2 separate regions of the Homo sapiens genome follow, and region 1 is linked to region 2. The links come from fine-mapping of genetic effects on gene expression. A gene starts in region 2. The other region holds a variant in brackets. All regions are shown on one strand. Distances are from middle to middle.

Evidence for each region. PIP is the estimated chance that this variant, and not a neighbour inherited with it, causes the effect. A credible set is the group of variants that fine-mapping cannot tell apart.
Region 1: its variant is the best candidate, but not a certain one, in a credible set for the expression of LAMC1-AS1 in thyroid (GTEx, PIP 0.74).

The regions. Positions count from the first base shown.
Region 1 is chr1:182,205,446-182,209,840 of GRCh38, forward strand. All of the region lies in intron 2 of LINC01344 (long intergenic non-protein coding RNA 1344), which reads right to left. Among named protein-coding and RNA genes, the nearest start is that of LINC01344, 110 kb to the right of the region's middle. The variant G/GACGT (reference allele first, on the strand shown) is at 2,579.
Region 2 is chr1:183,139,553-183,143,940 of GRCh38, forward strand. It overlaps LAMC1-AS1 (LAMC1 antisense RNA 1), which reads right to left and starts at 1,718. Exons shown (of 3, transcript NR_149048.1): 1 at 1,590-1,718; 2 at 1,259-1,417. LAMC1 (laminin subunit gamma 1) reads left to right here. Exons shown (of 28, transcript NM_002293.4): 27 at 852-951; 28 at 2,982-4,388. The coding sequence ends at 3,238.

The sequences.
Region 1 (4,395 bases), 930 kb before region 2:
ATGAAATAACTTAACACTTTCTTTTGGACTAAGCCTTTGCAAACTGATGGGTGTTGTATGCTTACAGCCTGACTTAGTTCCAACTGTCCACATTTCAATTGCTTAATAGCCATGTGGCCAGTAGCTACCAAACCAAACACCATGAGTCTAAATTCATAATCCCAACACTCTTCATAATCTTTGGAGCTCTTCTTGAAAGTCTTTCAGAAGATAGGAACAGAACTGACAAGATAAAGAGCCTATTTTTAGTTATTTGCTTTAGTCCAAGAAAAGAAAAGAAATAAACAATAGATTTCACAACTTCCATCTACAACCAGTAGTCAGCTTAGTTGCTGAAGGTCAGATGAGAAGCAGAGTGATGGAATCCACATCATTACATAACATGTGTCAGGTGTTCACATGCTTTCAGAGGGAAGCTGAACACAATGTGAAGATCAGAAAGCTGTAGATCCCTGACCAGAGGGTTGCTCATGAATCCAGCTCACAAGGAACACCAGCAGAGCTACCATTAACTCCCTCCCAGTCCTTCCTCTCCTTACTGTCACTCTCACCCCTGCCCCAGTTTGAAAGGCAAGGTGCATGAGCCAGGCCTAACCAGTGTAGGACAGACCCCATCCTCCTCACATCCAGAGGGCAGAAAGAAACCTCAAGACCTCCTTTCACCCCCAGCCCCTTGGAGAATCCTCTAACACCAGGAGTTCTCAAACTTTTATGCACAACAGAATCACCTGGAGGACATGTTAAAATTCTGATTCTGTGCCTTATCCCCAAGAGGTCTGAGATGGGGCTGGGGAATGTGCATTTCTAGCAGGTTCCAAGGCTGTTCATGCTGTAGGTCAGAAGATGATCACACATTGAGAACCCAAAGCTCATCCCTAAGTTATCAATATATCACTCAACAGCAAGAACAGATCTAAGAAAAGCACAGTGCCTTTTTCACTCTTGATAAAAATAAATGTGATTTTTAAATAGTTGATGTGTTTGGCTATTTCTCCCTGCCCTCCATTATTTCCTCTAGTCCAGGAAGGAAGGAAGGAATCATAATGGAGAGACAAAGATGAAAGGGAAAAAAGCATGGGGGCAGGGAAGTTAGCGGGAAATAGGGAGATGGACAGAGATAGATCACCAGAGTTCAGGATGGTGGAGAATAAGGCAAGATCTGTGCTCAGGGAGGAAAAGGGCAGCACAGCCACCTCCAGGCCCCTCAGCTGGGCCTGATGCACAGACTGGGGACAAGTTTGCCCATCTTTCTTTTCAATGAAGCCACAAAAACATCTTACACAGAGATTGTTTTCCTCTTTGCTTTTAAGAGAGGAAATCATGGTTGAATGCTATGTGACAATGGGCAGTTGCAAACCACAAGAGGCTTGACACCCCCATTCCAGGCCCCATATAGTGCTTCACTCCCCCTTTGCCTATGTGTGGGCTTTTTTTTATCTCTAACCTTTCAGGGTGCCTGGGTTTTAAAAGGAGAGGCAGTGAGACTTGCTGAGTTGCAAGCAGCTGGGAATTTGGAATGCATCTTTGGAGATACACACTGAGCCTGGCTCAGAACTTCCAAGAAAACTCAGTGGGAGGGGAGGAAAAACAACGCAATGACATGACGCCTTGCAGGGCCCGCCTTGGCCTTACTGAATCGCCCAGAGATTGCATTCCAGCTGCACTGAGGTGACCCAATGTTCCAGTAAACAAGGAGGGGATGGGATGGAAGGACCTCAGATCAGGCTACCCTGAGCTGTTAAAATAGAACACAGGGGGCCCAGCAAGGTGGGGCAAGGGGGCTGTGAGGCCTTTGTGCACATCCTGGATCAGTGAGGCACACCCACGAGGCACACCGGACACACATATACACATATTCACTTCTGGTGGGACTGGGACAAATACCAAAAACCCATGTTCTAGCCTCAGAATGGTCAGAAACTGGTGACCTCTTTAAGATCCTTCCTAGGAATCTCAGAACACAAAGGGTGAAGTAAGGAGACACTGACTTAGGCCAAGCCAGGCCACTGACTAATGGTGCCATGCTCTAAGTAATCCCTTTGCCTTCCAAAAAGACAAACTGAGCCACAGCAGACGAGCACAGTCATTGAGTCCATTTCCCCATTTGATGCCATAGCATGGAATAGTTGACTGATGATGCTATGACTCCTCGGGCTTATCCCGCCCCTCCTCCCTTGCCCCCGCACCCTCCTGTTTTCTCCTCTGTCTCCACTTCCATTTCACCAGCCACCAAATGAGCCTATGTGACAATCAGAGGGGTTTAGTAGAAATATGAGGAAGAGTGCCCTGGCTCAGACAGCGTAGCTATGGAAGTTCCTTCCCTGAGTGTCCATCTGCCTGGGCTAACTTGGGGCTTTGTAGCCCAAAGAGCATATATAGCTTGCCTCTCCCGCATAAATGTGTGAGTGATATCCTATATTCCTCTATATTCTGTATGTCTAGGTGACCCAAGACTTTATCATCCACACTGGGACGGCTCTAAGAATTAAAGGCAGTGCTCTTGAAAACAATTCCAGGACAAAGACATTAACCAGGACATAGGGCTGCCTGCATGACAAGGGGCCCATTTACCATCCTG[G/GACGT]ACGTCCCTCCCACATTTCTCGGCCCGTCCTGCTTTGCAGATGACATATTTTTACTATGTCTGATTTGTCCTTTCCCTTTACTGGTTTTAGCCTATGTTCCTTCATTTTCTTATATAACAATCACATTCAGGCAGTTACCGCTTCTCTATTTTGAAGTGAAAAAAGGTGAGTTTTGAAAATTCCCTATGTAAAAAGTTGTAAGACCCCTTCATTAAGGCTCTGAGGGGTGTGTTCCAGCAGCCTCCATGAGCTGCTTTTCAATTCCAGAGATTGGCTACCTTCTGAACATTAGTGTCCAGTGGGTATTGTTGGTGTTACTCACCAAATAGTCACATTCCAGTTTCTGGAGAAGCAAAACAGTGTGAAAAATGGTGATCCTTGCTTGAGTACTCAAAGCAGGGAAAAGGCTTTTCTCATGCTATTTCCTTAACACTCGTGGTAACAGGACCTGCTTCCTCTCTGTCTCTCCAAAGTGCTTAAAGTGTCGTGCATGTTTTCCATGTTTACAGCCACCCTACAAGGTTCCAGTCATCCTCATTTTACTGACTGACACTCTAAGTTGAAGCCAGAAAGCGGGGATAGCCAAGTCTTATCCAAACCCAGATCTACCAGGTCCCAAAGCCCATGCTTGTGCTCCATCAGTCTGGGCATCTGCTTTGCAAACCTGGCTTGACCTTGGAATAACCAGGCATGGACCCTTGTTTATTTTTCAGAGTCTCATTTTTTTTTCACCACTGATTGTTCCTTTCCATTACAGCTGGTGATATCATACTCCAGCAAGCGTTATCTAGTAGACACCAAGACTTGAAGCAGCCTCAGAAAAGTACTGGGCATAATAGGGCTTGGGCTAGAAGTCTGGCATTTCTGTAAGTCACCTAGGCTAAAGTCCAGAGAGGCAAGACAAGTCCAGAGAGGCAAGATGGTGGGGGAATGGAGGGTGGTGCACAAAAGTTTTACTAACTTAGGGGATAAGTGGTCTCCATAAGCAAGACTGGATGCCACGCCAAGCTCTCCCAGGCAAAGCTCCTTCCAGGGCAGGACTCCATGTGTGGAAGTAAGTAGCACATTTGCCTATGGTTGGGAGTAAAGTCTAATAAGAGAGACTAGAACAGGGCTTTAATTACCTGTTCTAAGCACCTCTGCTTATCTCAACTGATTTACCTCTGACCACTCTGCCAGGTGACCACTCTGTAAGGTATTTCTCTGGCCTTAAATGACCATCTCTTACAATACCTGCCCTCCATCCTTTCCCCACCTTCCTTACAAATATAAAGTGGTGGACACAGGAGCGTGGACTTAAAAAGTCAGACATTCCTGGGTTTACTTATTAACTGTGTGACTTTGGGTATGCTTCTGAACTTCTCTGAGCCTTGGTCTCCTCCTCTATAAAAAGGAGGATAATAATCAGGCCCTCACAGACTTGTTAGAATAATTAAAATAAAGCTATAATTTGTCTCATATAGAGTGGGCACTAAATAAATATTTATTGTTGATTTACTTGCTGCTGTTGCTTGAGATTGGTGTGAGCTCTCCCTCCAGAGTCCACTAGCCCTAGATCAATAGAAAGAGAGCATTTTAGGGAAAGGGACCTTAGCATTCATCTAGTCCACCTTCATTTGTGAAGAAACCCCAGGTTCAGAGATACTTAATTGCCTTCTCCACGATTATATGCCTTACTAGTTCCAACCTTCAAATAAGGATGTTAGTTCGTTGGAGTGTTAGAAAAGAGCTCTGGCTTTGGAATCAGGCCTATGTGAATTTGAATTCCACTTGCCAGCTTGGTGACATCAGACAAGTTAAAGTTACTTGACCTGTT
Region 2 (4,388 bases):
TTTCTGCCTTGCTTTCTTGTTCTTTTTTAAATCTTCACATTGTTTTGATCCCAAAATGTTTGTGTTGTCCTTACTCAAAACTAGGAAAAACAATTATGTGGTAAGAGGCTCAGAGCCACTTACTTAAATCTCAACTAGATTTATTTGTGAGAACATCTGTTTTCTGATATTTAGACACTTCCTCTTCCATTGCTGTTTCCTATGACTCATGCACAGTTATTTGTTCAGGTTTCATGGAATTTCCCAAGTGTATTTACCTTTGTTTGGTTTTTAAAATGTAAATTATATTGCCCCAATAAATGAGTATGTGTGTCAGGGGGACTGTGGCTGGGTCATTGCATGTGGAGGGGGAGTTTACAGAAGAGAACTCCTAGAAGAGCTTTACTTAACTATGAAAATTTTCAAAGAATAGGACATTTCTAATAAGTCCCTAAGAGTGTCCTGAAGGACATGTTTTGGTTCTGAAACATAGTTTCTATAATCATCCTTAAAAAATAACTTGTTTCTGCTTAATAGGCTTTACTATGAATATACCTCCATATATTATTGAGTTAGAATGTGAGAAAAGGAGATTAATTTTTGAAGTACAAATATAGTGAGTTAGTGAGTGTAGGCATCCTGACTGCCTAGTCATAACTTTGATGAAGTAGAAATACCAACATCCTCAATATGAAGATATGCAGCAGCCCCACCAAAAAAAAAAAAAAAAAAAAGCAATGAGAGGTTTCAATTTCCTAAGTTAGAAAAGGGAAGAAAATCTGGAAATTAGATTTGTTGGGTCATTGGGAAAAAAGATTTAAAGAAGATGAAAACATACAGTCAAGACTCTTTGCCTCATTTTTCCCTTACAGGCTTCACAGGCTGCTCAAGAAGCCGAGATCAATGCCAGAAAAGCCAAAAACTCTGTTACTAGCCTCCTCAGCATTATTAATGACCTCTTGGAGCAGCTGGGTACGTAGCCATAGAGTCATTTTTGTCAGTCTCTGAATCTTTTGTACTGTTCTTAGGATCTGATATAGTACAGTTGACTCAAAAGCAGATGATATAGGTTTACATGAATCCCTTTTAAGTCATTAATTAAATTATTAATATTTCCTTTTGCTGTTGCTTATTTTTGAAAGCCTTATAAAATAAATGTTTGTCTTGCATGACAGGGTCTTTAAGAGCAACTTGCTTCTTTACCATACTTATTATTTGTCAGCTTTACAGTGTGACCTGAATCATGACTTTAGGCTGTGTTAATGTGACAAGTACTTACTAGGTGCCTTCTGTGGACCTTGCCCTAAGTAGAACACTGTGGTCTGAGGAGTTTCTTTTTATATTTTGAAGATATATTGCCAGCTAGGGTAGCATTTATGGTCCAGTATCATTGTACAACTAAACAGTGATTTTTCTTAACTCATCTTGCTGGCAGTATCTTTAAGGGATTTAAAGTAAAGGATTTCAATAGTAGAATAAAAGAATAGTAGAATCACAGGCTGGGTGTGATGGCTCACACTGGTAATCCCAGTACTTTAAGAAGCCATGCAAGGAGGATAGCTTGAGGCCAGGAGTTTGAGACCAGCCTAGGCAACATAGCGAGATCTCACCTCGTCTCTTCAAATTATTTTAAAAATTAGCTGGGTGTGGTGCTACACGCCTGTAGTCCTAGCTACCCGGGAGACTGAAGCAGGTGCATCACTTGAGTTTGAGGTGATAGTGAGCTGTTATCGTGCCACTGCACTCCACCCTGGGCAACAGAGCGAAACCCTGTCTCAATTTAAAAAACGAAAAAGAACACTTAAAACTGGTCATGACTTTACTGCCTGGAATTCTCTTCATTTGCTAAGTAAGGACAGTCCGATGAGGGGAAAGCTTTCATGCCAAAAGAGAGAAAAACCTTGATTTTTCAAGGAAATCTATGCATACGGAAACCTTCTTTTAATCCAGTTTGATAGGGTGTTAGGGAGCAGGCTTCATTTTAGGACAGATGCACTTTTGTCACCAGACTCCATTATAAAGTGTCAACACTCTAGCCAGGACTCTTTGTAGCAAGGCATTATATTTTAATTTGCCAGCCTTTAAAGACTGGTGCATTTTGTTTTGGTGGGGGGCTACAGGGGTATTTTTTATCGGTCTCAAATGTCAAGAATAAGTTATGTGCCAACAGATGGATATAAAATGAAAGTAAGCTAGAAGAGAAAGCTTTTTGTGGAACAGCCAGACTTTTAACATTAGTCTGACTTGGGTTAGTATCTTTGCTTTGTTGCCTATAGGCTGTGCAAACTTGGGCAAATTATTTAACATCTGAGAATCACTGATGTAAAATGGTCTTGTGAGACTTTAATCAAGTCAAGTATGCATGAAATGCTGTCTATTGTGTCTGCTTTTGTTTGTTATGGAAACATCTCATTTCTTTCAAAAGAACCTCTTTTTCTTGCTAAGCTTAAAGTGAAGACTTGCTGAAATTATTTCAGCATTTTACTCCTGGCCATTTTCCATAGGAAGGCTCCTAATAGTGTCTAACTCCTGAAAGCAGAAAGTGACCTTCAAAACTGACCCATCTTCCCTGGAATCTCTCTAAGAGCTGAGGGATTAGGGTTCTTAGAGATTTGTGTATCTTTGATGGCACTAAAATGACATAGAGTTTACATGTATACACCTGGAAAAGGTATTAAATGTTATCAGATGGCCCTCAAAGGTCTAGAACATGGTAGCTGTGCATTGAGGAAACATTCTGCAAAAACCATTGTCTCAGAAAGAAACATCCAGCTCTATATTAATTGTATGCTCAGACCCATCCCTGCTGGGTTAGGTCAGCATTTGTACTTGGTTTGCATATTTTATACCATTGTGTGACATCAACAATCTGCAAGTCACATTTGCCGGGCTGCCTGTGCAGAATGGCAGCTGCTGGGCCTAGAGTCTAGTGCAGGTACTTGTGAAGGGATCATTCTTACTGAATATGTCTGTTCTCTTCTATGTACTTTCTGACCCTCCAGGGCAGCTGGATACAGTGGACCTGAATAAGCTAAACGAGATTGAAGGCACCCTAAACAAAGCCAAAGATGAAATGAAGGTCAGCGATCTTGATAGGAAAGTGTCTGACCTGGAGAATGAAGCCAAGAAGCAGGAGGCTGCCATCATGGACTATAACCGAGATATCGAGGAGATCATGAAGGACATTCGCAATCTGGAGGACATCAGGAAGACCTTACCATCTGGCTGCTTCAACACCCCGTCCATTGAAAAGCCCTAGTGTCTTTAGGGCTGGAAGGCAGCATCCCTCTGACAGGGGGGCAGTTGTGAGGCCACAGAGTGCCTTGACACAAAGATTACATTTTTCAGACCCCCACTCCTCTGCTGCTGTCCATGACTGTCCTTTTGAACCAGGAAAAGTCACAGAGTTTAAAGAGAAGCAAATTAAACATCCTGAATCGGGAACAAAGGGTTTTATCTAATAAAGTGTCTCTTCCATTCACGTTGCTACCTTACCCACACTTTCCCTTCTGATTTGCGTGAGGACGTGGCATCCTACGTTACTGTACAGTGGCATAAGCACATCGTGTGAGCCCATGTATGCTGGGGTAGAGCAAGTAGCCCTCCCCTGTCTCATCGATACCAGCAGAACCTCCTCAGTCTCAGTACTCTTGTTTCTATGAAGGAAAAGTTTGGCTACTAACAGTAGCATTGTGATGGCCAGTATATCCAGTCCATGGATAAAGAAAATGCATCTGCATCTCCTACCCCTCTTCCTTCTAAGCAAAAGGAAATAAACATCCTGTGCCAAAGGTATTGGTCATTTAGAATGTCGGTAGCCATCCATCAGTGCTTTTAGTTATTATGAGTGTAGGACACTGAGCCATCCGTGGGTCAGGATGCAATTATTTATAAAAGTCTCCAGGTGAACATGGCTGAAGATTTTTCTAGTATATTAATAATTGACTAGGAAGATGAACTTTTTTTCAGATCTTTGGGCAGCTGATAATTTAAATCTGGATGGGCAGCTTGCACTCACCAATAGACCAAAAGACATCTTTTGATATTCTTATAAATGGAACTTACACAGAAGAAATAGGGATATGATAACCACTAAAATTTTGTTTTCAAAATCAAACTAATTCTTACAGCTTTTTTATTAGTTAGTCTTGGAACTAGTGTTAAGTATCTGGCAGAGAACAGTTAATCCCTAAGGTCTTGACAAAACAGAAGAAAAACAAGCCTCCTCGTCCTAGTCTTTTCTAGCAAAGGGATAAAACTTAGATGGCAGCTTGTACTGTCAGAATCCCGTGTATCCATTTGTTCTTCTGTTGGAGAGATGAGACATTTGACCCTTAGCTCCAGTTTTCTTCTGATGTTTCCATCTTCCAGAATCCCTCAAAAAACATTGTTTGCCAAATCCTGGTGGC